4 linked regions of the Homo sapiens genome follow. The protein of the gene in region 2 purifies or fractionates together with the protein of the main gene of each other region. This does not show direct contact. Each region holds a gene or a part of one and is shown on either strand. Other genes may lie near its edges. The genes, in order: NAALAD2, NAALADL2, IGSF3 and CELSR2.

Region 1 (7,337 bases), on a different chromosome or scaffold from region 2:
GCTTATTATAATTTTGTATTACAAAATTTGTTTGGTGTGTGTATCCCCAATTAGATTTCATTGTGAGGTCCAAGAGGGTAGAGACTATGTCTCTGTTTCCGCATCTCTTTTCTGAGTTCAGTGCTTAGTAAATATCTATAGAAAAATTAAGAATAGTGGCACAGAAGTTAGAATAACCAACTCTGTCTAAAGGCCAGAGAAAATACCAGATGTTTATATTCAGAAAGGTACCATTATCCCCAGTTTTACAGGTGAGAAGACTAAGGTTCAAAGAGGGGAACAAATACACCAAGTTATAATGCTTTCACAGTTACTTAAGTAGGGTCTGCCTTGGGTCTATTTTTGAGCAAATCAGTGTTATAAACAAACAAGAAAACAAAATATAGTCAATATGTGTAGTAGTCTAGATTTAAAATAGACCAATTTGACTCCACAGTCCACAATGTTTTCACCACATGTCTCTGCTCTTCTTAGAGTGTCAAAAGACAAGGCAAGTATAAGTTTGTAAATGTATTTTTAATGAAAGGAGTAAAAATGTATATATATACACACACACACACACGAGCTCTTAAAAATTCCCAAGTAGAAATCTGAGGTTATGTAGAGTTTTTTAAAAAATCCATAAAATTTTAACTTTGTTTAAACATAATAAGACTGTCTAAAAGAATAGTCCCAGCGCTAACCCCTGCCTGCCCTGCAAAACCAAGACTTATAGGTTAAGAAGCTGAGCTTGAAATTATGTCACCTCTATTGTTCTGAGACCTCTTTATAGGTCTTATTAGGCAAAAATAATTTACAAAAGCAAATGTTTTATCTGAAGTTTTCTCCAGTGTCTTCCCACTAAAAGAAATCTAAGCTGCCAAACATTAATTAAAATGGCATTTGTAAAGATTTTAAGTTCTATTTAAAAGTTTACCAAAATAAGCAGGAAATTACATCTTAGGTACATGGCAAAATTACCAACACAGGTAGACATCATGAATAAAAAATAATTTGGGCTAGATTTATTTCTTGCCATTTGCAAAAATATAATTTTTCTATAAAACATATACATGTGTATAAATATATACATGTACATATGTTATTAAAAGTAGAAGTTGATGACAAATAATATATAGTTTTATTTTGGCATAAATGTAGTTGCTTCTACCCCTAATTTCCAGTATTTGATTTCTCTTTCCAGATCCCCAGCCCTGATGATGGGTTTGAGAGTAAATCACTGTATGAAAGCTGGTTGGAAAAAGACCCTTCACCTGAAAATAAAAATTTGCCTAGGTAAGTTACTGATATGCACCTTTTCTACTGTAGGATAAGTTATGAATTCCCCTCTGCCTCTTGTTTCTCCAAGCATGAAATTCTCAAGCGTCTCATCAATAATTTGAGCCAAGAAAAGATAATGAAGAATTCCTGGCCGAGCCCAGTAGCTCACGCCTATAATCCTAGCACTTTGGGAGGCCGAGGCGGGTGGATCACCTGAGGTCAGGCATTGGAGACCAGCCTGGCCAACACGGCGAAACCCTGTCTCTACTAAAAATACAAAATTAGCCGGTCATGGTAGCGGGCACTTGTAATCCCAGTTACTCAGGAGGCTGAGGCAGGAGAATTGCTTGAACCCGGGAGGCAGAGGTTGCAGTGAGCCGAGATCGTGCCATTGCATTCCAACCTGGGCAACAAGAGTGAAACTCCATCTCAAAAAAAAAAAAAATAAGAATTCTTCTATCCAGTTTTGTTTTGCTGATTAGCCAGCATGTGAAGTCTTTCAGTCTATGTTAGAGCACAAATAGATCTAGTTTTGCAAATTTTTAGCCAAAATAGTTTCGCTACATTATTAGCCATTAGTTGGCATTCTTGCTTAAAATTTCATTTACATATGTATTAGGTGTATTAATATATAATATAACTTCAGATGATAATGATGAAAAGACAAATGCTAGATTATTTGCTTGTAAATTTATTAAGGAACATTATCAGTAACCACCAAATTGTGTCTTTACCTGTGATTTAGAATTTATATAAATATTATTTTATTTTTTATGTCATCTCATTCATGCTACAGCAGCTTTCTTAAATTTATTTTATATTTATTTGTTTTTATTTTCTTTTTTCTAAACATTATGTAATAAAAAGTATATATTTGTTTTCTACTGTAGTGCCATTTCTAATACAGACTGAGCATTCCTAACTCAAAAACCTGAAATCTGAAGTGCTCCAATATCCAAAACTTTTTGAGCACCAACATGATGTCACAAGTGGAAAATTCCACACCTTATAGCACTTAACACAAACTTTGTTTCATGCACAAAATTATTTAAAATATTATGTAAAATTAAGTTTAGGCTATGTTTATAAGATACATATGAAACATAAATGAATTTTATGTTTAGACTTGGGCCCCATCCCCAAGATATCTCACTGCATATATGTAAATATTCATAGTTGGAAAAAAATCTGAAGTCCAAAATATTTCTGGTCCCAAGCATTTCATATGGGATACTCAACTTGTACAAGCAAATAATAGTAACAGTTTATAGCTTTATTCCTCATTTCAAATCAGTCTTGTGAAAGTTTGAATGTGGGTCCATTATAAAACTTTCACATGCCAATTCAACAAAAACAGTAAAATACAAAAATGATTTCTAAAACATTGAAGAGGTCAGTCTCAAAAACATATCTACTAACCTAATAGTTTGGAAATAAACAGTTATGTTATTAATGAACATGCAATTTTATATTCTGCTTTCATGACTTACCATTATTTTACTAAAAATTTTCATGTCTTACATTTTATTTATGTATATGCATATATATGTGATAGATCAACAGAGGTTTCCTAATCATATGCAAAGAAATAAATTATAATTAGATTTATTTCTAAAATGAGGCACATTTATATTCTTCATGATTTTAAAAGTAGATTTTTTTATGGCAGTTTTCTTACTAGATGATAGTTCTCTGAGGGTAGGGCCCACGTCTTCATTGTTTTCCCCTCTAAACAAAAATGTAAATGCTGAAGATATGATGGAGAGCATCATCACAAGATGCAGTCTTTGGTGGCACAGCCCAATTCTTGTTATAGGTTGGTGCAAAAGTATTTGCAGTTTTTGCCATTATTTTTAATTTTCAGCATTACTTTTAATTTTACAGCAATTTTCCTGCAGATTATGGGAAAATGTCTTGATGGTGGTTGACCTTTTTTAAATTCTTATAAATGTAATATATAATTCCTTGCTATTCTTGGGGCAGGATTCCTTGTCCCATCTATTTAACTTTGTATCATTTACTTGTTTATGTGTGTGTGTGTGTGTGTGTGTGGATTGCATTCTACATCTAGAATCAATAAGCTGGGATCTGGAAGTGACTTTGAAGCTTATTTTCAGAGACTTGGAATTGCTTCAGGCAGAGCCCGTTACACTAAGAATAAGGTAAGCCATTTTATCATTTTGAATATATAACATTTCATCTACAGTCCTTTGGCGAAGAATGTCACTGAGTTGTTTGGCACCAGACACCTGGTGGATGTGGCCTGGGAAGAGTTCCCAGGGATAGAGATAGACTGCATGTCCCTTTCCAGATGGACAAGGAAGCAATTTGAGTAATTTTGTGAAAATTTCATTGTTAGGGTTAATCAAATAAATGGTGATTCACAGAGTAATGCCAGACACTTATCTGGTTAATCAGTACTAAGTAGTTCACATCCTTTTCCTGATTTGTCAGAAAACTCTCATTCTCTAGACTAGTCTTGCAGGCTCTGATGTACTTTTCATGAGGATAAATGCAGTTGGAGAACATATTTTGGTCAAGAGGAGCATTAGGGTAAGATTCATTATTGTCGGTAGCTCCTCTTCATATTGCCACTTCTGCCTGTCACCTGAGTCAAGGGTTCTTGGTTGGGAAATAAAGCAAGTTTCTCTTTTAACTTGATCCCCTTTTCTGTTCTGCACTGACTGGTTTGCACTACTGTCACACAGACATCCTGATGATATGCAGGTACTTGGATATAACCAATATATACCATGTTTGCTCATCAATGTTATAAATTATTTCATAAACCAAATTGAAGATTACAGTAGCAGACACAGATTTGTCATAGATTTTAATCAATCTTCAAATCATAATTACAGTACATCTAAATCTTGCTTGCCCATTATATGTATATCACTTGCAAATTTGACTGTTCAGAATACAACAAAGAACAAAGAAATAAAAGCAACCCCAGAGTAACCCAAAATAGATAAACTCAGAATGCTTACATTCATTACAATTAATACATAAATGATGTGTTTTAACTCTTTGTCAAGGCCTGTTCACTTTTATACTCTGTCTTCTGTAATTTGCTCAAAGTTATCTAGTTTCTAAGACCACTTTAGATTAGAAGCAGATAATTAGATAGAAGGAGAAGGACTGATAAGGAGATTGCTTTTTAGTGATACTAACAGCAGTAAGAACGATAGCCATACAAGGTGGCAAATAATAAAAACTAAAATTAGAAAAGGCAGACCGAAGAACTAAAAAGAATATTTATACGGGATACTACTATGTAATAATTCATATTCATAATGGTACCTTAATTATGTAATAAAGCTTAAATGACATTTAGATATACACTGTTTGAGAAGGAAGGGAAGTTACTTAAATAAATCATCCTTAAGCTGTGTACTTAGCTGCCCAGAACCTTTTTTTTTTTTTTACCAATCAATTGATAGATAACTTTGAACTATGCTGAGGTGCAATTTGAATATGTATTCCCTAATTTTAGTTATCGAAGATACAAGGAGAAAATGTTCAAGGTGTAGCATCTTGAATGAAGGTTACATAAATTATAAAACAAATAATGAGAAAATTTTTAAAACCAGTGAATATTTGGCTATAGTGTTTTCGTTATTAGCGTTTTGCCTCCTTGTGGTAAAACTCAGGGTGTTATATGGTTGTATTTTTTCTTTTTCTTGTTTTTTTTTTTTTTTTTTTTTTTTTTTTTTTTTTTTTTGTATTTTTAGTAGAGACAGGGTTTCTCCATGTTGCCCAGGCTGGTCTTGAACTCCTGAGCTCAGGCAATCCACCTGCCTTGGCTTCCCAAAGTGCTAGGATTACAGATGTGAGCCACCATGACTGGCTGGTTGTTATTTTTTCTATAGTTATTTTTATGCTTACATAAAAATATTATAACTTGAATATTTAATGTTTATTTATACTTGCCTCTCCATTTTTTTTTCAGAAAACAGATAAGTACAGCAGCTACCCAGTGTACCACACAATTTATGAGACATTTGAATTGGTAGAGAAATTTTATGACCCCACATTTAAAAAACAACTTTCTGTGGCTCAATTACGAGGAGCACTGGTATATGAGCTTGTGGATTCTAAAATCATTCCTTTTAATATTCAAGACTATGCAGAAGCTTTGAAAAACTATGCAGCAAGTATCTATAATCTATCTAAGAAACATGATCAACAATTGACAGACCATGGAGTATCATTTGGTAAGAAATAGTTGGGCAGATATTTTACAGTCTTTAAGTTAGAGCTTTAAGATATTATCTCCTATGATGATCAATGCATATTGTTTCATCCTAGAATACATATTTGCCTTACTTATTTTGACTTCTACACAAAAACTTAAAACAAACACCTATTAAAGAATCTGATTTAATCTGGCATGTATAGAATGAATCCATTATGGCTGAGTTATTACCACAAACATTGGGATGGTAAACATTTTTCTTGTATTATGGCCTTTAAAAACATTTTTACTGGCTGGGTGCGGTGGCTCACGCCTGTAATCCCAGCACTTTGGGAGGCTGAGGCGGGCAGATGATGAGGTCAGGAGATCGAGACCATTCTGGCTATTATGGTGAAACCGCGTCTCTACTGAAAATACAAAAAACTAGCTGGGCATGGTGGTGGGCGCCTGTAGTCTCAGCTACTCGGGAGGCTGAGGCAGGAGAATGGCGTGAACCTGGGAGGCAGAGCTTGCAGTGAGCTGAGATCGCGCCACTGCACTCCAGCCTGGGCGACAGAGCAAGGCTCCTTCTCAAAAAAAAAAAAAAATTTACTGTTATAGAAACAATATTAGAAAAATGTAACATTATTTGCAAAAGATTGAGAAAGCCACAAATACTATTACATACGTATTTTTAATTATTGTCAACAAAATGATTATTACTGCATATATCTTTTAGTGTTTGTCTATATGAAACATTTTTTCCATGGTTATAAGTATACTTTCCTTTTATTAATGACTGTTTAGTGGTTGCTCTTCTGCATTGTGCATCTCCTATACAGCAAGGATGACTCATAATGCAGTGTATGTAGTAGCATTGAGGATTGAGTTTGGAAGTGGTTTGCCTGGTTCAGATACTAGCTTTACCAGTTCTTCGTTATGTGACCTTGGGAAAGTTACTTAACTTCTCTATGTGTTAGCTTTCATACAATTAAAAGATAAAAAAGAACATATCATGTTTCAAAGATCATTGTGGAGATTCAGTTTGGTAATATATAGAAGCTGTGGTGGGTAGCACTTAGTGCTCATTAAATATTACCTATTACTGTTTTATTACAAACATTGTCTTTTATTATTCTGGGGGCACCTATTTTTAGTATATACCCAAATTATCAAATATGCCCTGAGTTTCTACTGTGTACCAAGTACTATGTTATTACCTGGGAGATATAAATGTGTACAAGGCATGGTCATAGTCCTAAGAAAGCTTAAAGTCTCATGTGGGGAATAAAGCAATATACAGATAATAGGTTACTATGGGGCTATGTAGAGAGTACTATAAAAACACAGAAAATGGGTATGGAATAGTAATGACTTCTGAATATTATTATATAAAGGATTAGTAATCTTTATATAATATTATATACAGGATTAGTAATAATAGCAAATACTATGGTCTAGAAAAAAAATGAAGCAAATAAAATGTGTTTATATCAATACAATTGGAGTATCTCTGCAGTGATGGGGGAAATAAGGAGAGATAAAACCAGAGAAATAAGCAGAGCCTACAGCAAAATGGACATTGGTAGTTCTGTGGCTATTCAGCATCCAGTTGTCTTCCTAAATTCCCTGATTTCCTTTTGGTGAATGATCTTTTATCAGTTTTTATAAGTCAGGGTCCAATTAAGAGACAGAAACCACACAGTTAGAGTGGAAGGGCTCTCTTTAGACAAGGTTAATTCTTCTACCTACTTACCTTCTTAGAGGCCTGGTTTGATCTGTTAATTCCTTTCCCTGTCATACTTTCAAAAATCACCATTACTATTGGTGACTATCCATTAGATTAATTATTCTTATAGCTTTTCTATTTCAAAAACATTTCTTCTGCCTGATGTGTCCC
Region 2 (7,337 bases):
TAATATGGCATAAGGAATAGGGGTAAGTGCTTTCTAAGCATTGTTATTTGTGAAGGGAAGGATCATTTTTCTTGCATAATGCCTGCAAACTCACCTGCACCACTGAGTGGCACTCTATCACTCCATCAGTCTGTAACAGGAGTAGAGGGAGGGACATGGCTGGGAGATGGGAGGGTGACAGCTCCCTTCCTGGAAGGGAACTACCTGGAATATGCCTTAGGCTAAAGTTTCTTCAGAGGCCATCCTTGAACGTATAAGGGCTTCTTACCTCTTCTCTGCCTCGAAGGATGTCCATTTCCTACTTCTCCCAGGATTCTTATTAACAGAGTAGGTCCTAGTCAGAATTGGAAAATGGGGAAAGAATCTATCAGCATCCAGCTATGTGCTTCACCTGCTGAGCTCCTGCTACCTCAGGAATCCAGTTTCCATGAGCTTTTAACATGTTCTTTCTCTCCTTTTCATCTTTAGTCGAAATATATTCAAGGGCACCTTCCTCTTTGTAAATAATATGATATACTAATTGGCCCTTGAGATAATTGAATAAAAAGTATTTCTGAGTTTAATGCTGGGACAATCTTGTGAGAGGAGGAATCTTTAAGTTACGCCTCCCTGGGCTGTTTAATACACTTGGCACTCGTGCTGCCTACCAGCTGCCTGGATGTTTTGAGCGTTTCTAATAATAGCTCTCCTTCTACTTCAGTTCTTCTTAGTTCTCTAGCTCTAGGAAATCCCTACTCTGAAGGCTACAAAACAGTAGAACTCTGGGGGAAGATGTTCCAAGTACAGAGGAGTTGGCTGGATCCTGAGGAATGCAGAGCTAGCTCTAGATAGCAACCAGCAGGAGATAACTCTTCAACCCACTGAAGGAGAATTTTGCCATCACAGTTAGGAAAAAATAATCTTCAGAAAATTAACATTTTCAAGCTAGAAGATAGTCTCAAGTCCAATGTTTTTACTTTGTAGAGTAACAGAGATCCTATGAAGCTAGGAAAATTGTTTTTGGTTTCACAGAAGCCATTGCCAGAGGCCACGTCTCTAACCTGCTGCTCAAAACTGCGTTTGCTGCAGTTTTACGGAAGAATTTGGTGCATTATTTTCTAGAGTAATTTACTTTCCTATTTCTAATGGAGAAAGCAGTCTTAGTAATGTTTTCCATATTGACGTCTTTTAGTTTCTATATTTATGGTCTTGAAAGCATTGTCGAGTATTCAGTGAGCTTATTATGGAACCTGTCCATCCAGGCTTGGGTTTTCTCTTTACTAAACAAAAGTTACATTAGCTTGTAAGACATTTAGTTAATTTTCATTACAGCTAGGAGAAGTTGGCTTGTAAGTTCATAGGCACATGTATGGAATGTTTCTTCATAATAGAGTCATTGTTTAGAAATGGCACTAATTCTATTTAAAATAAGTAAAAGAAAAAAAAAACAACTCTAGGCAGGAGGAGCCTTAGTGTCTATGCTTCCAAGTTGCAGCCTGAGGGTAGTAGTACTTTGTACTCCAACCTGTTATACTGGTTTGGTGTGCATGCTTACTTTCTGTGGTGGGAAAAATATCTCTGTATTCATCATCAGAAACCATGACTGTGAGTGCCTTGAAATCTTTGTGATGCCACAAAGAGGACTAACCAGTATGTGACTCTTCCTTCCCAGCCTACAGAACTTTAATAGCATTTTCAATTAACAGAAGTGCAAGGAGCTCCTGTTGGACCTGTGTTCCATGAGGAAGGCTTTCACTAGCCCTTCATGATAGGTTCAAACACTTGAAGACCTGAGGAATTTCAGAGTTGACATTTAGATATTGAGGTAACAGGACATCTTGGAGTTGAAATTTCCAGAATCTTTGCTGGAAAGTCTCATAATCTCAAAACAAAATCAAGCAAATTTGGAGCAAAGAAAGTTGCTGAAAATGTCAAGGCATGAAATCCAAGGTGAGTCTGACCTAAATGAGTGAGTTAGGCAAAGGTGCATGTGAAGATGGACTGGGTACATTTTCCAGGTACAAGAGAGGGTCTTTGCAGCAGGCAAAAGAGATTAGGAAAACAAAATCTGAAGTAAAGCCTAAGAAATAGTTAATGAAATCAACTAACTGAGCTTATGAGCTAATTTTTTCTTTGTCTTTCTAAGTGGAAGTGGAATCTTTACCTTATTAGAAATAAGATGGCAAGCAGTGTACTTGAATAGAACGTGAGATAAAGGTGGTCAATGACATGGTACTTAGTTAAAACCTGCTGTTGGAGGAAAAGCCAATTCTCAAACACTTTGAAATATGGAGTTTGTTCCTGGAGTTTGTTTAATCCCCTTTGATTTAAATAATATTTTATGGTACTGAAATTGTTTCAAAGGGAAACATTTTACATTTCAATTAAAGTCACTGTAAAATCTTCTTGAAGAAAAGGTGATACATAACTACAGGATGACTTGATTGTTTATACGTTATTATTAATCATGCAATAAAAACTTTTCCATCTATTTAAAAGTTTGAATCTGTTTTTGAATTTTTCTTTGAACAAAAGATGCAGTAATAATCTTAAGATTATAAGTATATAAATGTAATTATTACTTTGTATGCTATTCTCTGGATTTTGGAAGGAGTTTAAACAAATTTAGCTAATTGAGTAGGACAGTAAGCCAAACTTCTTTGTATCACAGTTTTTTGGGGGAGGACTATTAACCAAACATGTATTTGATTTATTATTGGAAAGTATTAGACTTGATATATAAGTGAAGAAATAACAGGTGACTGCAAAGATTGCAAAGAAGATGTTATTAGGATGACAATACACAAAAGGGCATTGAGCTTCAGTTGATCCCTTGAGCTTCTAATTACTCTTCAGGAAAAGTATGTGTCAATAGTTTTATTTGACAATGCTATTTTGTTGCTCTGGTGACAGATATGTTTAACCATCTGCATAGTCGAACACTTCGGGAGGCTCTTTCATAAATGCTTTCTGTAATTTATATTGAAAAGTAATTTACCTGCCTCTTTAAACCCCTGATTAGTGTAATGCAGGTTGTATATTGTGTCCAAAAAAAAATAATAAAGTTATAAAATCCTACCAACTAAAAAAGTCGAAAGAGAAATACTTTGAAAAGTCAACTGCTAAATTTAATGCAGTTTATAATGAACATGCAAAAGGTGTGCACGTATGCTTGTTAAACCATACAATCAACTTTACCGTGTGACTTGAAACTTCAGTGAAAGATTCATTCTGAGATCTGATTAAACTGCTGAAATCCATTCAATCTCTTGATTCCTTTGTTCTCTCAAAAGTAAGCTCCTTTGAAAACAGGTCATGAGAAGAGAGGAATGAAGGATTATTGTACTTTATCTTCCTCTTTATTTATGACCTTTAATGCAATCGTAGACCAGCCTATCTTCCATTAAACTATTGATAAATCTTGAAAATTTCTCCATCACATCCACATTTCTTCGAGGGAGCTTTCAGAGATGGAGAAATACACTGCCTCAAAAGGTAGACATTGCTTCCATTCTTGCTGATTCTTGGTATTGTTATAACACAGGGATGTAAATAAGAAATTATAGAGGAATCTAGGAATTTATAGAGGGTTTCATAGAAGAGAGATGATTTGAAATTTCCTTGGCAGTTTGATAAACTGGAATAAGTGACCAGAAGGAAAAAAGCCTTCACTGGTCAAAAGAACAGCTGAGAGAAAGCATGGAAATTGTTTCTATGTATTTACTTGCTTTATTTCCCCCCTCTTTGGAAACAGAGGATTTTTCAAAATTCTCTACTTTGCTATAGGCTATAAATAAATAAACATAATAGAGATAAGATTAAGACAATGTAACAGTTAAAATTTGTATACAAAATATATGCCAGAACATGCTGAAAAACTGTCAAGCAGGTGACAAATTTGCTTTCAAGCCTCCTAGCAGCCAAAAGAAAATAATAAATTGTTTTTCACATTTATGGTCTTCAAATTATATAGAAATGTACCAGTCATTCAACAGATGCATGGATTTCTTGATAGACATGATGATAGAAATTGAAATCATTTCTATAGAGGATAAGAGACAGGCCTAACTAGAAGAGAGCATCTTTATTAGAAAACACTGAGCATTAAAATTAAAATTGTTATAGAGAGAAGGAAAATACTATTATATAACTCATATAAGAATATTGACATAGATGATTTTCCTTTGAGCTCCTAAAGCTATTGCACTATGCAGCCATATATTTGTCACAAAAACATTTCTGCAGAAAAAATTTCAAACCTATAGTAAATCTGAAAATAGAAAGGAAAATAATAGAAGAATAATTTAAAAATATAGATTGTACAAGATCTATGTATTTACATGATTTACATATTTACACTGTTAAAACTTCAGAATAAAAATAGATTCTTTTAAAATTTAGGCTTCTATATATATATCTTATAAGCTTACTCAATTGTCTGTCCCAGAGTTCCTAATGAATTTTATATAGGTGTTTTGCATTTATTTTGGTTAATGAAGGGTTCAGTGCAGTTACTATGGCAGATCTGGGGAAGAGGAGAATAGAGATAAGAATAAGGAAGAGCATATGGGCATTGATAATAACGACTTTATAACCTTCAGATGCAATGAAGTAATGATGTTGCCTAGAAGTTATTTTATATGTAGGTAAATAGGAATTTGGAGAAAAAGAAAAAAATTACTAAGAAAATATTAATGTGTTTATTCTTGACTCTGATTTCTGATCAGTTTTAGCATCATATTTTATATTTTTTCCAGTTTACAATTAGACCTATAAAAATTTCTTTGGGGCATCTTTTTTTCTTTTCTAGATTAGAAAACCCATAATATTGTCTATATTTCTATAAAATACTTACTAATTACTAAATCATATTTATCAAAATATCTTATGTTGTTTAGTAACATAATCTGCAATTAAGTTGGTATGTAGGTAATAGAATGTTCTGGAAAAGGAGTCTATGTAAAATATTTAACTAAATTGATTAGATAATAAATAGTTTATCTTCATAATCACAAAAATAAAAAAGGGGAAAGAACTAGTAAATTGGGTACTAATTTAAGGCAGAAACTTACTAAGCTTATTTGACTCTCACAGTGTTGGCCTTCTCCTTTCTTCCAACAAACACACCAAGCTGATCCGCTATTAACACTTACATGTTTTGGTTGTTTCTGCTGAACTTCTTATATTATGTTCCTTCTTGTCAATCAGTTATCAGATTAAATATCATCTCCAGCCTCACAAACTAAACTAGCCAGTCTGTCTTAATGTGTGATTTTTAATTCTTTTAATATGTCACCATAAGCCATTTTCCTTTTTTGGTATATTTGTTTATTGTCTATTTCACTGCAATAAAATGTTCTCTTCCTGAGATGAAAGGCCATAGCTGACTTGTTTATTGCTTCATTTCTAGTGCGTAGATCCATAGCTAACATATACTATGTTTTCTCAAGTTTAATATGCTCAGAAAAAAAGCATAAAATGCACAGTCTTATTCCTATGTGTATATGCAATTTACATTTATTCTAACATGAAAATTAGTTGAGCATAAAGTAGCAGCATTTAACATGATCAGTACAAAACAAAATAAAACAAGAAGCTTTAAATAAAAGAACCATTGGCAAATAAAAATTGTCTCAAATTGAAACAGACCTTTTTTCAAGAATAATAATAGTTGGCATAGAGTCTCTTTATTCTGAGATTGGAAGTAGTGCACTGTTATTCAAAATTAGAGAATTTATTCCTCCTCATTTTCTCTAGTTCTGTGTTACAGTGACTCTCGTTGGATTACCTAGATGAGCTCTCAGAAAGTCTAAGAATGAAAAGGCAAATAACAAATGAAACTTAGAGCAGCAGAATGTAAGGAGAGAAGCTCATGAAAGAGTCAAAGGGTTGGTTCTTATTGGTAACAGGAGGCTAATTTCAAAGGCTTCAGACATAATGCTAAGGTACTAGGTGTGACGGATGGCTGTGCATCTAATGTAACTGCATCTAGATACATTGTGAGGGGTAAATAGGTTATTTTGGAAGAAGGAGAAATGTAATGCTTTTACCTTTGGATAAATTGCATTTGTGATAACAGTGAGGTATCGAAATACTAATGTATTCATTTAATAGAATTTATTTTACATGATTGTTTTAGATATGGAGGGTATGTCTGCTGCCTTTGATGAATTCTCAGTTCTTTGGGAAATTTAGTGATGTGCTTATTTATATTTGTATATATTAGGCATATGCCCCTTACTGGGTAATTGTGAAAATTAAAAACATAAATATGCCAAACACTTGGAGCAGTCCATGGCACATAGTTTACACTTGATAAATGTTTTTTCTGTTCCCACAATCATCAACACCATCATTTTAATTTTAAACCTCATCCTTATTGTTATCCATCATCATAGTGATGATGCGCTGAATTCATGTGATTATAGTGGGATTCGAAAAAAGAATTTGGGAGACACTTGAGGTTAAATTGGTGTTTGCTTGTACTGAAGGAGGAAAAATGAAGAGACTGTGAAAACTTGATTTCTTGCTTGGATGACAGCAGGAATAGTATCCTTAACTGATTTAGAGAATGTAGGATGGGGACCGTTTAGGCAATAGAAATATAATGAGACTGCTTTAAAACAGTTATTCTAAACTGTAATTGTATATTTTGATGAAAATGTCTAGGACTTAAATTGAAAAATTGAGACTAGACCTTGGGAGAGAGAGAAATAGGATGGAAATAAAGCTTTAGGAGTTATTAAGGCATAAATGGTGTATGACATTGTGAATAGGTGAGACTATACAAAGATGGATGGTAGAGGAAGAAGACATGAATAATGATGATGGAGTATAAAGTCTGAGCAGAAATAAAAGAAACTGAGATGAGTCCATGGGAGAGAGAGAAGATAAAGATGACGGAGTTTTCAGAGGAATTCATGCTGGGAATTTCTATTTAAAATGAGTGAGAAATATTAAAGGACAAAATAGTCAAACAGCAAGGATTTGGTGACTCAAGCCTGGAACTAAGGTGAGACATGAGAAAGAATACAACTGGAGAATCACTGGGAATGAGGTGAAAAAAGATGAAATTATAGAGTATAACTTTAAGAAGCTTAAAACAGTAGAAATTCTGTCATAAAGCCCTGGGAAATGACCACACTTTGGAAATGGGAGAAAGAAGAGTGGAAAAAAGAGGTAGTTACACCAAAACAGTTCTAGGAGATAAATATAATTTTTCCCTTTTCACAAATGGAAGCTGAAGTTCAGTGAAGGAAAGAATGAAAGTGCTCAAATAGAAGGGGTGTGTCTGAAGAAGATGAGGACTTGGATTCCTAGAGTAACTTTAAAGAGCAGAAATGCAGATTTATCTTTCT
Region 3 (7,548 bases), on a different chromosome or scaffold from region 2:
CCATTTGTGGTTTTATATTAGCCTTTTGGTTATAGCTATTGGTAGGTCTAGAAACCTCAAACTGATATAACCACTTGGCCATATCTTATCCACGAAAAAATTTTGTGTTGGCCCCCCCAAAGTGTTTAATTAGTTAATTAATTAGTTAATTTGTTTGCCCTCTCAACCCAGCTTTTCCTCACTCTAGGAAGAACTAGAAAGAGAGGGATTAATTTATTTTTGAAACACTAGTTTCCAATGAGCAAAATTAAGAATAATTTTTTTTTAATGTGGATTTCCTGATTCTCTTAAAAAGTAGGAAAATCAGGCAACACCACACCTTCCTTCCCAGCAGCAACACTTTGCTGAAGCTGTGCGTGCTCTTTCAGGCTGTGCTCTGGGTGCACAGGCCCCAGTACTCCCTGGCACTGTGCTTCAGCTCGGCTTCTGCAGGCTTCTGCATTTAACTCCCTGATGGACAAGATCAAGGAGTCTTCCAAAATGTCCAAAATAAACAACTGATTCCAGGCCGGTGCAGTAGAGGTTTCAAAATTCAAATGCAGAATGTTTTGAAGCAAGCTGGAATGTTCAGCCCGGGCACCAGACATTGCTGACTGGGGACTTCGGTGCACTCCTCTCCTTTGACATCTCTCCTTCCCTTAGGACTCTCTCTTTCTCTCTCTCTCTCTCTCTTTCTTTCTTTCTTTCTCTCTCTCTTTCTTTCTTTTCTTTCTTTCTCCTTCCTTCCTTCCTTCCTTCCTTCCTTCCTTCCTTCCTTCCTTCCTTCCTTCCTTCTCTCCCTCCCTCCCTTCCTTCCTTCCTTTCTTTCTCTCTGTCTTTCTTTCTGACAGAGTTTCGCTCTTGTTGCCCAGGCTGGAGCTTGTTGCCCAGGCTGGAGTGCAATGGCACGATCTTGGCTCACTGCAACCTCTTCCTCCCGGGTTCAAGAGACTCTCCTGCCTCAGCCTCCTGAGTAGCTGGGATTACAGGCATGCACCACCATGGCCGGCTAATTTTTTGTATTTTTAGTACAGACAGGGTTTCTCTATGTTGGTCAGGCTGGTCTTGAACTCCCAATCTCAGGTGATCTGCCCACCTCAGCTACCCAAAGTGCTGGGATTATAGGGGTGAGCCACTGTACCCAGCCTCCAATTCACTTCTCTGCCTGCTGATGAACTCCTGAAGGGGCCACCATCACATCACTGTTCAGGACTCATTTAATCGTTTCTATGTCTGGAGGGCAGAGGCATTCTTTTAAATTATACTTTTGTCTCCCCATCCAACACTTTGCACAGTTCTTTGCATATCGTAGATGTGGAAATTAGAAAGAATGCCATGCTGGGAATCAGCCATAACACATCTGGGTGGTGATGGAAGTCAAGGGTTGAAAGATCATCCAGAAGGATGCAAGGGGCCAAGTAGTATGAAGAGGGGCAGGTTGAGATTGAAAGAACGAGTAATAGAGAAGGGATAATTGAGTATAGGGGTTCAAGGATGAAGGCCTAGGCAGAGGCCTCAGAAAGTACAGTCTTGCACCTTGATGGGGGTACACCTTGGTGGGGGTCAGAGAGTTCCAAAGCAGGCTGAGATGCCCCTTCTGGAAGATTCCTTGACTCTTCTCTTTCTCTCCCCCTCCATATTCAGTTCTTCAGAGAATTTCATTGACTCTGCTTTCTAAATGCTTTCAGACTCCACCCATTTCCACAACCTGCATCAGCACCACCCTAGTTTAAGCTGTGATCATCTCTCACCTGCGCAATGGAAAGAACCTCCCATCCAGTGTCCCTTGTCCACCCCTACCATCTGATGCTCTATTCTTACCCAGCAGCCAGAGTGAGCCAAGCTCCTCAGGTTAGAAGGTCCTACTAGATTTGGCCTCTTTGACCTCTCTGATCACATTCCTCCTTCTCCTTCTGTTTTATGCCATTTCAGACACACTAACACACCTTTAATTTTCTGAACATGTTATGGGGCTTTGCACTTGCTGTTCCCTGCACTTGGAATCTTCTTACTCCAGAAATCTCCAGCGCTCACACACTCCCTGTAATCAGGTCTCGCTCAAATGTCACTTCCTCTGAGGGGTCTTTTCTGACCACCTCACCTAGCAAAGAGTCCTTCTTCCCACTGGAACCCCCAAACATACACACTATTTCTTTTCCTTTCTGTTTTTTATTTGTTTGTTTGTTTGTTTTGGAGATACTCTCGCTCTGTTGCCCAGGCTGGACTGCAGTGGTGTGATCTCAGCTCGTTGCAACCTCTGCCTCCCAGGTTCAAGCGATTCTCATGCCTCAGCCTCCCAAGTAGCTGGGACCACAAGTGTGCACCACCACGGCTGGCTAATTTTTGTATTTTTTGTAGAGACAGGGTTTCGCCATGTTGGCCAGGCTGGTCTCGAACTCCTGACATCAAGTGATCCCCCTGCCTTGGCCTCCCAAGGTGCTGGGATTATAGGCATGAGCCACTGTGCCCGCCCACACATTTCTATACTCCACTTTTCTTCAGAACACGTTACATTATATTATATACTTGTTTCATTGTCTGTGTTTCCCACCAGAATGTAAGCTTCATGAGAGCAGAGACTTTTCTTAACACGTAGTAGGTGCTCAATAAATAAATGAAGGAGTCTAGCAAATGGGAACTGAGAGCTGCCAGAGTCACGGGTGTCTCTGGGAAAGAGGTAATAATTAACACACAAGGAAAGATTCCTGGTTGGGCACAGTAGCTCATGCCTGTAATCTCTGCACTTTGGGAGGCTGAGGCGGGCAGATCACCAGGTCAGGAGTTCAACACCAGGCTGCCCAACATGGTGAAACACTGTCTCTACTAAAAGTACAAAAATTATCCGGGTGTGGTGGTGCACGCCTGTAGTCCCAGTGACTCAGGAGGCTGAGGCAGGAGAATCACTTGAACCCGGGAGGTGGAGGTTGCAGTGAGACAAGATTACACCACTGCATTCCAGCCTGGGTCACAGAGTGAGAACCTGTCTCTTAAAATAAAATGAAAAATAAAACGTATATCTGATAACCATAGTCCCTTACTCAACACCTTCAGTGGCTTCCCAATGGTCCCAACCCCTTAACACACCATACAATGCCCTCTAGGTTCTGGCACTCGATTTCTTCTCAGCTCATTTCTTGTCACTTCTCTCCTACAGTCAAGTTTGGGCCCAGCAGACTGTCCTGGTCCTCTAACTGGGCTCCTTTCTGGGCCTGCAGAGGTGCTGTTTCTTCAGTCTGCGATTCCTTACCTCCCCTCTGTCTCTTCCTCTGCTGCTGCCTTCTGTTCTTTGGCATTCAACCGAGTTTTCCTTTCCTCTGAGAAGCCTGGGACCTACCCCGACCAAAGCTCCCTCCTCCTTGCCCCTCCCCCAATAACACAGGGTTGGGGTCTCTGCATTTGCTTCCTCAACACTGTACTTTTCTTGTCATGTCTATTTTATGGTCTGTGTCCCCACTAGACTGCAAGTTGCATGAGGGCAGGGCGGTCTATTCTGCTTTGGTCGCCTCGTGACGGTGTCTACCCAGCAAGTTGTGTGTGTTGGGTAAGTAGTGAGAAAACGAAAAAGCACTTGCTTTACAGGGCGGTTGGTCATAAAATAATAATAGCTTATATTTACTGACCACTTGTGATGTATCAGGCACCATTCTAAATGCTTTACAAGTATGTCACAGATTTCTCCCATAACCCTCTTAAGTAAGGGTTATTTCCTCCACATAGCAGATGGGGAAATTGAGGCACAGAGAGGTTAAGTAACTTGCCAAGGGCCACAGCGAGGAAGTGGAGGAACCGGCGTTAGAACCCAGGCTGTTTCCAGAGTCCAAATTCTATCCAAGAGTGAAGTGCAATATGGGGTTCCACTTCGTGAACAGATTCAAGTCTCCAAAGGGCTTTGTTTTTGTTTCCAGGAGGAAGGACGAGCTTCTGTGCCGCCGGCTTCCCAGGTTATGGGTGGCCAGCTGGGCTTTGGGAAGGGCCTGTACATCTCGCCGGCGGCCCCGGAGTCTGGGTGTGAAGCCCTGATTAACTTGCCGGGCTGCTCGGCCCACACGCCAGCCCTGCCCAGGTCCTCCGGTGCCCCGGGCCACCCTCATGCCCCCGCCAGGCCCGGGGCCGGGACTCGCGTCTCCAGGGGCGGGGCCGGGGGCGGGGCCGGGCCTCTCTTCGAGGCCGCCGCCCTGGCCCCGCGCTCGCCTCGCCGAGTGCGGCGGGCCGGGCTGGAGCTGGAGGGGCGGGGACTCGGGAGGGGCCGCAGCGCGGCTGCTGGTGCCGTTGCGGGAGAAGAGGAAGCGGCGCGTCCCCTGAGGCGTGCGCCTGGATGGACTGAAGGACGGTCCGACGCGCGCGGAGGGAGAGGGCCAGGGGCGAGGTCAGGCTCGGCGGGGGCGCGGGCGGCGCCCGGAGGGGGCCCCGGGGAGGGAGGCGGGGAGGCGTGGAGCGGGGAGCGGGGAGCGGGGAGTGGGGAGCGGGCCCGCGCCGGCTGAGCTCCGGGTCGGGCCCGAGACCCCTCCCCTGGCTGGGCGGGCGCGCTGCGAGCGCGCTCCGGCAGCTGAAAGCGGAGCTCCGGACTCCCTTCTTCCCCGGTTTCTTTTCTTTCCAATCAGCGAGATATAAACACCCTGCAAGGTAAAACAATAGCGGGGCCACCTGGGACGCGTCGCGCGCAGAGCTCCCACGGTTGGGGCGGGGGCCGGGAGTCGCGGCCCCACCGCGGAGCCCCTTCCCGATTTGCCCTGGCGGAGGGTGGGGCTACCTGCGGCGCCCGGGCTCGGTAGGAGGTGACGGGAATTCCCAGGAGTGAAGCATTTGGTGGAAGTATTTCAGGAACAATCGGGCTTCCCACTGTTGCCCTGCTCTGGGCAGGGAAACTGAGGCGGAGGGAAAGACAGAGACTTGCCCAAGGTCAGAATGCAGAGGTTGACTGTCCTGGTCCAGGAACCGGACCCAGGTGTCCGGACCAGCTCAGCGCTCAGCCCCAGTGGGTTTTGCAGCTTTGCCTTTGATAAAAATCTCTGTTGTGTTTGTTTTAGAAATCTGCTCGCGCTGGGGTACCGCTTCAGGGCTGCCGAACGCCAACTTGCTTCGTGTGCCCTAGGCAGGCGTGGGGCAGGTGGCGCCTCCGTGACCTACCACCATGGATGGAAACGGACTTTTTGGTGAAGAAACCCAAACGGTTGATGCCAGGCAGGGTGATTTGGCCGTCAAAGGTTTTGACGAAACCTGCCCTGTTCTCTCTGGGGAATCCGAATGAGGGAGATCACAGACACCTTCACTGAGAAGCCAAGGACATTTCTGTATAATCAGTGGATGAAAGGATTTTCTCAGACCCTTTTTTCCGTGCTTCTGGAGGATTAATCCACTACAGTCTGCAATTTCAGTGGAAACTGCAAGGCACACGATGTGGCAGGAGCCGGGAGCGACTTCCGAATTGTTGTGGACCCTTCCTGTAGCATAGGGGAGTTTTCACACTTGCCTCCACTCCTCCCCTTCCCCCCAACTCCCTCCTTCTGATCTCTTCTTTTTAATCTGTTCCCATTTTCCGAGTTAAGTTCTATTTCCAAAACTGTTCTCTGGAGCTATAAGTGGATTGCCAGAAATGAGAGATTAGGAGCTGGGAGAAGAGGAAGCGCCTTGTGTTGTGTCTCCTGGAGGCTGCCGACATGAAGTGCTTTTTCCCGGTGCTGAGCTGTCTGGCTGTGCTGGGTAAGTGGCTCTGCTTATCAGTGCAATCGATGTGAAAGTTTAACCTGCTCTTGGTTCCTGTAATTTCTCGTGGTTCTTTTTCATCAACACTAGGATTTGGGGGACACCAGGAGGCGGTCGGTGTGTGTCACAGGTTGGAGTAGAGTACGAAGAGGCCCGTTTCTAACCCAAGAGCAACGGTGGAATATCATTTGTTATCTATAAGAAGGAACATTTGCTGTTCTTAAAGTGTCTGTCTTGGCCCCTGGGGTGAGGTCCTGCATCTGCACATCTGTGGTTTAGGGACTTCACATGGCTGGTGGGCTGCTGTCTTGTAGCATGTCAAACATGGATGCTCTGGTGTTTTCACTTCTTTGTTGGGCTGCATTGATTCCTAATTGGGAGTGGGAACATCATTCCCCTCTGTCTCGAAAGTTGGTTTGGGTGATAATGATGGTGCCTTTTTTGAGGTGGAAATGGGAGTAAGTGGGATGGGGGTTGAAGGGATGCTTTGCCTACCTGAGTGGTCTGAAGGCTAAAAATGTGAGGGCACTAGTCCTGTGTCTCCTCACCAAGGAAGCTTAGATCGTAGTTCTGGGAGAAGGAGAGCCTGAAGAAAAGGAAGCTGCCTGGTAGGGGAGATTTTAGGATTGGCTTTTGTGCTCCCACAAATCAGAATGCCTAGAGTGGGAAGAAGAAACTATGGCCCTGAGAGGTGAACCTTTGACACCCCTCTTAAGGTGCAGATGCAGGACCTTCACCCCAGTGAAGAGGCCCCTCTGCTCAACAATTGCCTATTCTTTTTATGCCATTGAGCACTGTCTTCAGCGTGCTGTCTTAGAACACATCTCAGGTCTAGGATAAACTTCATTGCCAGGATTTGGTGCCATTCTCTTTCCCCATCTCAGACCTCATACATGAGCACACCCCCTGCCCTCTCTGTAAGGCTCGGTCCTCTGCATTCAGAAGGGATTATGATTGTTGCCTACAGGGTTCACGTCTCCAAATCTAGGTGTCTTGCACGTAGGGAACTTAGGGTGATCTGTTGGCAGTGGAGATTGCTTCCATGCATTGTCTACACCCTTGCAGTAGGTAACAGGTGTGTGGGAAGAGAATGGACTTTAGAATTAGAGGACCTGAGTTCCTATCCCAGCTTCACCATGATTGACATCTGAATGTCAATAAAACAGAAACAATAAAACAAGGGAAGGTGTGATAACTAAAGGATATAAGGTGTCCTAAATGCCTTGACTGCCTTAAATAATGTCTGAAACTCATAATAGATTTGTGCAATCAGTGGTTCTCAAACTCTCGTGTGCATGTTGGAATCACTGGGGAAGCTTTTAAAAATTCTGATTTCAGGCAACAACCCCAGATCAGTGAAACCAAACTCGCTTAGGGAGTGGGACCCAGGTCTCAGCCTTTGAGCTATCTCAGGTAATTCCATGCATGGTTCAGTAGAGAACCAGTGGGTGAGTTCACTAGCGCCAGTGCCCTACCACCCAACGCATGCAGACACCCTGCTGGTAGTTTAGTTAGTCTTCTGTTCAGCTGTGGGCTGGGATACAGGCAGTGTCTCCATGTCACCTGTATGCTCAGGCAGAGTCAAGAAGGCAGGGAGCCCTTCATTTGCCAGTCTCTTCATATTGGATCTGTATTTGTTGTACTGTATGTGTCATTCGCTTAGTGTCTGGGTTTAAATCAGCAATTAGTGATTCATGTGGATTCAACAGGACACAAACAAGGAAAGCCCTTGGGGAGGTTTGGATGTGGGGTGGGGTGTGTGGCTAAGGCGGGAAAGAGGGCTGAGTGGCAGGGTGGGGCCCAGGGCAGGAGAAGTAACCATCAATGGGAAAACAAGGCAATGTGACATTTGTGCCTTTTGTTTCT
Region 4 (7,337 bases), on a different chromosome or scaffold from region 2:
CTGTCACCCAGGCTGGTGTGCAGTGGCGTGATCTCCGCTCGCTGCAACCTCTGCCTCCCAGGTTCAAGCAATTTTCCTGCCTAAGCCTCTGGCCGCCACCACACCTGGCTAATTTTTTTTTTTTTTTTTTTTTTTTTGTATTTTTAGTAGAGACAGGGTTTCACCATGTTGGCCAGTCTGGTCTCGAACTCCTGACCTCATGATCCGCCTGCCTCGGCCTCCCAAAGTGCTGGGATTACAGGCGTGAGCCACTGCACCCCACCACATTTTGGACTTTTTTTTTTTTTTTTTGAGACGGAGTCTCGCTCTGTCATCAGGCTACAATGCAGTGGCATGATCTCGGCTCTCTGCAACCTCCACCTCACAGGTTCAAGCGATTCTCCTACCTCAGCCTTCCGAGTAGCTGGTACTACAGGCGTGTGCTACCATGCCCAGCTAATTTTTTATATTTTTTTAGTAGAGACAGGGTTTCACCATGTTGGCCAGGATGGTCTCGATCTCTTGACCTTGTGATCAGCCCGCCTCGGCCTCCCAAAGTGCCGAGATTACAGGCGTGAGCCACCGTGCCCAGCCCACATCTTGGACTCTTAACAAAAATGCTGAAAAACCTGCACTGTGCTTGGCATAGGGCTGTGCTAGAGATTCAAAGATGAATCATGCAGGGTTCCAATCGTCAGCTCACCACCGAGTCCTGGAGTTACGCCACCACAAAGGCAGACAGTCTGGGGAGTAGGGGGTGTTGGCTGCTGACCCAGGACACCCAGCCCAGGATGGGGGCTGGCGCTGGTCCTGGACTGGCAATGAGCAGGTTCATAGGCAGGAAGTGGCGGAGAGCACAAAGTGGTGGCTGGAGACAGGCAGGATGGGGGCTCAAGGAGGTCGTATGCCCTGTTCCCCTAGAGCCCATGTGTGGACTGATCTTGCGGAGATTTTTGGCCCTGGTGTTCTACATACCTGTCTTCCTGTTTCACCAGGGCCCTTGTTTGCTAGTTACTGTCCCCGGCCCATGAGGTGCTGGCCTCCAGCAGAACCTCTCAGCCAGTCTCAGGGGCTTCCTGTGTGTCTCCCTGAGGCCGGCCCTTTTGGCTTCCTTCCCCCAGGGACTGCTGTGCGCCACTGTGATGAGCACAGGGGGTGGCTCCCCCCAAACCTCTTCAACTGCACGTCCATCACCTTCTCAGAACTGAAGGGCTTCGTAAGTGAACCCCCTCATCTCCATCTTTTCCCTGTCCTTCGTCCTGAGTCTCACTTGCCCCCACTCCCATCTTTGAGAACGGGGCTTCTGGAATTCCAGCCTGTGTGTTCCTGGGCTCCCAGCTGGAGAGGCCGTCTCTCACCTCCTGAGGTCCTTTTGCTCCAGAGTTCCTGCCCTCACTCCTGCTCCTCCGCTCCGTCCTGTCTAGGCTGAGCGGCTACAGCGGAATGAGTCAGGCCTAGACTCAGGGCGCTCCCAGCAGCTAGCCCTGCTCCTGCGCAACGCCACGCAGCACACAGCTGGCTACTTCGGCAGCGACGTCAAGGTGGCCTACCAGCTGGCCACGCGGCTGCTGGCCCACGAGAGCACCCAGCGGGGCTTTGGGCTGTCTGCCACACAGGACGTGCACTTCACTGAGGTGGGGCTTGGAGGATGCAGGGCTGGCTGGTTAGATAGGGGTCATGGTGAGTGAGCCTGCTCATGGCAACCTGGGGGGCAGAGGGGGCCCTCCCATCCCACCTACAAGGAGCTCCCTGCTGGCAGGAGGCCTCCATGAAACCCTGTGACCCCTGGCCCAGCCCTCTTCCCAACCCTTCTCATAGTAACATATGTGTGTTGGGGCATGGTCTGACCCAGAGCAGAGGCCTGCCTGTGGTACCATGGGCTGGGAGGAAGCAGTATCTCAGGACATGTGTGTGGGTCCAGGCACAGGGCTGGGAAGCTCTTATGTAGAGAATGAGGAGGAGGGCTTAGGGGCAGAGCATCCAGTGACCTGAGTGGGCAGTGCGGTCCAGGAGCATTTCAGGGGAGGCAACAGTGAGCACAGAGGGAGGGGCCTGGTGGGGAGCAGGGACTGGCCCGGGCACAGGCCGGGGCTCCATGGTGGGGATGTCAGGTGTGGGTTGTGAGCACACCCACCGTGACCTTGCCCACCCCAGAATCTGCTGCGGGTGGGCAGCGCCCTCCTGGACACAGCCAACAAGCGGCACTGGGAGCTGATCCAGCAGACAGAGGGTGGCACCGCCTGGCTGCTCCAGCACTATGAGGCCTACGCCAGTGCCCTGGCCCAGAACATGCGGCACACCTACCTAAGCCCCTTCACCATCGTCACGCCCAACATTGGTAAGGCTGGTGCCTGGGTTGGGGAGGGGTTTGTGGAGGGAGTCCCCGACAAGAGCGGCTGTGCTGGGGTCCTGCCTGCCTCACAGGTCCGATCTGTGACCATCCCCTTCCTTAGTCATCTCCGTAGTGCGCTTGGACAAAGGGAACTTTGCTGGGGCCAAGCTGCCCCGCTACGAGGCCCTGCGTGGGGAGCAGCCCCCGGACCTTGAGACAACAGTCATTCTGCCTGAGTCTGTCTTCAGAGGTCAGTGGTGGCCATGGATTGAGTTGGGAGCTGGACCCCAGTGTCTGTGCAGACTCCACAGAGAGCAGGGCCCAGCTAAGTGTGACAGTGTCCCCTCCCAGAGACGCCCCCCGTGGTCAGGCCCGCAGGCCCCGGAGAGGCCCAGGAGCCAGAGGAGCTGGCACGGCGACAGCGACGGCACCCGGAGCTGAGCCAGGGTGAGGCTGTGGCCAGCGTCATCATCTACCGCACCCTGGCCGGGCTACTGCCTCATAACTATGACCCTGACAAGCGCAGCTTGAGGTCAGCAGCTAGGGGACAGGTGTGGGTAGGGGTATGGGTCGGGCGGTGAGTGCTGAGGCATGGAGGGGGTCGGGGGCGTCTCCCCAGTCATGTGACTGCCGTGGTGACTGTGCACCTGACTGCCCCACATCAGAGTCCCCAAACGCCCGATCATCAACACACCCGTGGTGAGCATCAGCGTCCATGATGATGAGGAGCTTCTGCCCCGGGCCCTGGACAAACCCGTCACGGTGCAGTTCCGCCTGCTGGAGACAGAGGAGCGGACCAAGCCCATCTGTGTCTTCTGGAACCATTCAATCCTGTGAGCCTGCACTGCCCTCGCCCCCTCAGGCTTCGGGCTGAAAGTCCAGGCCCCTGCATGCCTCACCCTCCTTGTCTCCCTGACCCTGCCTTCCTCACACAGGGTCAGTGGCACAGGTGGCTGGTCGGCCAGAGGCTGTGAAGTCGTCTTCCGCAATGAGAGCCACGTCAGCTGCCAGTGCAACCACATGACGAGCTTCGCTGTGCTCATGGACGTTTCTCGGCGGGAGGTCGGGCCCACAGGGGCAGCTGCAGAGCCGTGGGTGGGCACCCAGGGCACGGGGCTGGGTGCTCAGGTCCTGCCCTTCCTAATTCCCTGGCCCCCTGCCACCTACTCTGCAGAATGGGGAGATCCTGCCACTGAAGACACTGACATACGTGGCTCTAGGTGTCACCTTGGCTGCCCTTCTGCTCACCTTCTTCTTCCTCACTCTCTTGCGTATCCTGCGCTCCAACCAACACGGCATCCGACGTAACCTGACAGCTGCCCTGGGCCTGGCTCAGCTGGTCTTCCTCCTGGGAATCAACCAGGCTGACCTCCCTGTAAGATGCTCCTACTGCCCAGAAACTGTCCCCACCTTCTCAGGCCGCCTCCCCAGCCCCCACTGGCAACCCCTGCTCCTGCACCATGAACTCTAATAAGGTGCCTAGTGCAGCACCTGGCCCAGGGTTTCCTCTTCTGTGGCTCCCCCGGGATCCCCCAGCACCTGCCTCTGGCCCAGGCTTCCCTGGAAGCAGTTCCCAACACCCAGGCCCTCCTCCATGCCTGACCCGAAGCAGAGCCTGTGCTCTGGGCGGGCCCCGGTCGCTGACCTGCCCTGGCCTGGGCCCTCAGTTTGCCTGCACAGTCATTGCCATCCTGCTGCACTTCCTGTACCTCTGCACCTTTTCCTGGGCTCTGCTGGAGGCCTTGCACCTGTACCGGGCACTCACTGAGGTGCGCGATGTCAACACCGGCCCCATGCGCTTCTACTACATGCTGGGCTGGGGCGTGCCTGCCTTCATCACAGGTACTCCCACCCATTCCCAGTCTTGGGGTCCCACATCCCTGGGTCCACCTTTGTGCCATGTTCTCTCCACCCACATACAGGCCCTGAGGCCCCACATCCCCATGCCCCAGGCCGCCTTATTCACAGGTGTCCCTCTGGTTTAACCCAGACTCTGCAGCCGCCACCCAGGCGTCACTCCCTTATCCTGGGGAGATCGGTAGGGGCCGATGGTGGGCAGAACCCTTTTCCATGCTTCATGCCTGGCCCTGTGAGCCCACCTGCCCGCAGCCCTACTTCCCAGGCCCCTCATCACCCCTCCACTGCTCCCGTCTGTCTCCATGCTCCAGGGCTAGCCGTGGGCCTGGACCCCGAGGGCTACGGGAACCCTGACTTCTGCTGGCTCTCCATCTATGACACGCTCATCTGGAGTTTTGCTGGCCCGGTGGCCTTTGCCGTCTCGGTGAGTGCTAGCAGGTGGGTTGGGTGTCACCTGTGGCCCTCCTTTGCTGTCCTCCTGCTGCTGGGGCCGCGTGTCCTCAGGACTCCCTTTAGGAACAGCTGAGGCCACGGGGCCCTGTGGGCTGGGTGGAAGCTGTTTGTCCCCACTGAGCACCCCATGCCCTCTGCCCCTGCCTAGATGAGTGTCTTCCTGTACATCCTGGCGGCCCGGGCCTCCTGTGCTGCCCAGCGGCAGGGCTTTGAGAAGAAAGGTCCTGTGTGAGTATAGGGTTGGGGTGCCTGGGCCATGGGCAGGCACCAGCATGGGAGGTCTCATGGCCGGACTCATGGCCTGTCCCTATCCCCAGCTCGGGCCTGCAGCCCTCCTTCGCCGTCCTCCTGCTGCTGAGCGCCACGTGGCTGCTGGCACTGCTCTCTGTCAACAGCGACACCCTCCTCTTCCACTACCTCTTTGCTACCTGCAATTGCATCCAGGTACCTGGCCCAGCCTGTGGAGAAGGGAGGCACCTGGGCTGTGGATGCCTGAATATGCACAGACCGTTGCTGCCTCTTGCCTGCCAGGGCCCCTTCATCTTCCTCTCCTATGTGGTGCTTAGCAAGGAGGTCCGGAAAGCACTCAAGCTTGCCTGCAGCCGCAAGCCCAGCCCTGACCCTGCTCTGACCACCAAGTCCACCCTGACCTCGGTGAGGGAGCCAGGGGTCTCAGGAGGGCGGTGAAGGGAGGGAGAGGCAGGAGGCCCAGTGAGCCTGTACTTTTGGCCCCACTCCCCTTTCTCTTTTCTCCATCCCTTCCTGGAAGGTGGAAGGGGAGGTGAAATGCTGTGTTCGGCCTGGGGAGGAGATGTTGGAAAGGGTGTGTAGGATTTTGACTTGAGGGAGATGGGGCTGAGACAGATAATCAGGTAATAAGTGCCTTGCACCTGAGAATCTCTCATGAATTTTAGTAAATTTTCTGTCTCCCAAGGTGCTCTCAGGAGACAATTTCTGGTCTCATCTTTTACAGAGCCATTATATAGTGAGTCCAGGATCCCTGGGGGCATGCAGGGGTAGCACAGCTGTGGCAGAGCTGTGACCACTGCCAGGCCTCAATATGGGGACAGCGGAGAAGCAGGGCCCTCTCTTTCAGACCTGAGCATGTGGAAGGTGGAACTTAGGGCAAGTTCCCTCCACCCTCCTTCTTCCCAGCCTGGGGCCAGCCATCCCACTCCCCACTTACTGACCTCTCTGTTCCCTGCCTAGTCCTACAACTGCCCCAGCCCCTACGCAGATGGGCGGCTGTACCAGCCCTACGGAGACTCGGCCGGCTCTCTGCACAGCACCAGTCGCTCGGGCAAGAGTCAGCCCAGCTACATCCCCTTCTTGCTGAGGTGAATCCCGGAGATGGGAGGGTGGAGGAGGGGAGGAGGGGCCCACGCATGCTGGACCCAGGCCAGCCAGCTGTTGGGAGTTGAGGAGCACACACTGTGGCTGACGTGGGGGCCAGCTTGGATTAGAAGCTGTAAGGGACCCACAGCAGGAACCAGGATCCCAGGGGAGAGGAGAGACTGGGACCCTGGGCAAGGGGCCAGGCTGACCCCTCCAGCATGGTCTCATCTTCCTAGGGAGGAGTCCGCACTGAACCCTGGCCAAGGGCCCCCTGGCCTGGGGGATCCAGGCAGCCTGTTCCTGGAAGGTCAAGACCAGCAGCATGGTGAGGACAGAACGCTCTGGCCACCCAGCAGGGCAGTTGGCTGGCTTTTACTGAAGGTGGGTGGAGGTGGCTGGGCTGGCTGTGATCTCTCCCTGGCCTCCTAGATCCTGACACGGACTCCGACAGTGACCTGTCCTTAGAAGACGACCAGAGTGGCTCCTATGCCTCTACCCACTCATCAGACAGTGAGGAGGAAGAAGAGGAGGAGGAAGAGGAGGCCGCCTTCCCTGGAGAGCAGGGCTGGGATAGCCTGCTGGGGCCTGGAGCAGAGAGACTGCCCCTGCACAGTACTCCCAAGGGTGGGCCAGCACTGGGGCTGTGGCCTTTGGGGCCAGTGGGAGGACAGTGGGCCTGGGGTTCTTGGGAAGCAGGACTGGGGTGGTGGCCTCCTGGCTATCTGCCCTCTGTGGGCCTCATCTACTTCCTTTCCCCACCAGATGGGGGCCCAGGGCCTGGCAAGGCCCCCTGGCCAGGAGACTTTGGGACCACAGCAAAAGAGAGTAGTGGCAACGGGGCCCCTGAGGAGCGGCTGCGGGAGAATGGAGATGCCCTGTCTCGAGAGGGGTCCCTAGGCCCCCTTCCAGGCTCTTCTGCCCAGCCTCACAAAGGTGAGTGGGGCACCCCCAGCTGCCGAGCTCCCCTAGTCAGCAGCCTCATACCTCACATTCTCCTGTGGCCGCACCTCACAGCCCCGCCCCGGCCCACAGGCATCCTTAAGAAGAAGTGTCTGCCCACCATCAGCGAGAAGAGCAGCCTCCTGCGGCTCCCCCTGGAGCAATGCACAGGGTCTTCCCGGGGCTCCTCCGCTAGTGAGGGCAGCCGGGGAGGCCCCCCTCCCCGCCCACCGCCCCGGCAGAGCCTCCAGGAGCAGCTGAACGGGGTCATGCCCATCGCCATGAGCATCAAGGCAGGCACGGTGGATGAGGACTCGTCAGGCTCCGAGTGAGTGTGGCCGGGTGGGCGGGACGGGGTGCAGCCCCTCGGAGGCCTCACCTGGGCCCAGAGCTGCCTCCGGGCCTCCCCAGGTGACTCTGGATGGCATTTGGAGGACAAATG

What was found.
Region 1: the proteins of NAALADL2 (region 2) and NAALAD2 purify together in Homo sapiens (affinity purification with mass spectrometry; 3 studies listed by BioGRID and IntAct, with this or other methods). This does not show direct contact.
Region 3: the proteins of NAALADL2 (region 2) and IGSF3 purify together in Homo sapiens (affinity purification with mass spectrometry; 3 studies listed by BioGRID and IntAct, with this or other methods). This does not show direct contact.
Region 4: the proteins of NAALADL2 (region 2) and CELSR2 purify together in Homo sapiens (affinity purification with mass spectrometry; 3 studies listed by BioGRID and IntAct, with this or other methods). This does not show direct contact.

What each region holds. Positions count from the first base shown.
Region 1 is NC_000011.10:90,172,641-90,179,977, forward strand, and holds part of NAALAD2 (N-acetylated-alpha-linked acidic dipeptidase 2), read left to right. Parts: intron 1-1,183; coding exon 1,184-1,275; intron 1,276-3,331; coding exon 3,332-3,422; intron 3,423-5,212; coding exon 5,213-5,477; intron 5,478-7,337.
Region 2 is NC_000003.12:174,862,162-174,869,498, forward strand, and holds part of NAALADL2 (inactive N-acetylated-alpha-linked acidic dipeptidase-like protein 2), read left to right. Parts: exon of another isoform or gene 1-1,907; coding exon of another isoform or gene 1,908-1,929; intron 1,930-7,337. UniProt on the Homo sapiens protein: May be catalytically inactive.
Region 3 is NC_000001.11:116,664,415-116,671,962, reverse strand, and holds the start of IGSF3 (immunoglobulin superfamily member 3 isoform 2 precursor), read left to right. Parts: upstream 1-4,229; 5' UTR 4,230-4,345; intron 4,346-4,494; exon of another isoform or gene 4,495-4,602; intron 4,603-5,006; 5' UTR 5,007-5,636; coding exon 5,637-5,679; intron 5,680-7,548.
Region 4 is NC_000001.11:109,266,448-109,273,784, forward strand, and holds part of CELSR2 (cadherin EGF LAG seven-pass G-type receptor 2 precursor), read left to right. Parts: intron 1-1,100; coding exon 1,101-1,195; intron 1,196-1,403; coding exon 1,404-1,613; intron 1,614-2,133; coding exon 2,134-2,317; intron 2,318-2,432; coding exon 2,433-2,561; intron 2,562-2,662; coding exon 2,663-2,843; intron 2,844-2,976; coding exon 2,977-3,144; intron 3,145-3,246; coding exon 3,247-3,373; intron 3,374-3,485; coding exon 3,486-3,686; intron 3,687-3,978; coding exon 3,979-4,153; intron 4,154-4,479; coding exon 4,480-4,592; intron 4,593-4,769; coding exon 4,770-4,849; intron 4,850-4,938; coding exon 4,939-5,065; intron 5,066-5,152; coding exon 5,153-5,275; intron 5,276-5,830; coding exon 5,831-5,958; intron 5,959-6,192; coding exon 6,193-6,281; intron 6,282-6,385; coding exon 6,386-6,580; intron 6,581-6,718; coding exon 6,719-6,889; intron 6,890-6,988; coding exon 6,989-7,223; intron 7,224-7,337. UniProt on the Homo sapiens protein: Receptor that may have an important role in cell/cell signaling during nervous system formation.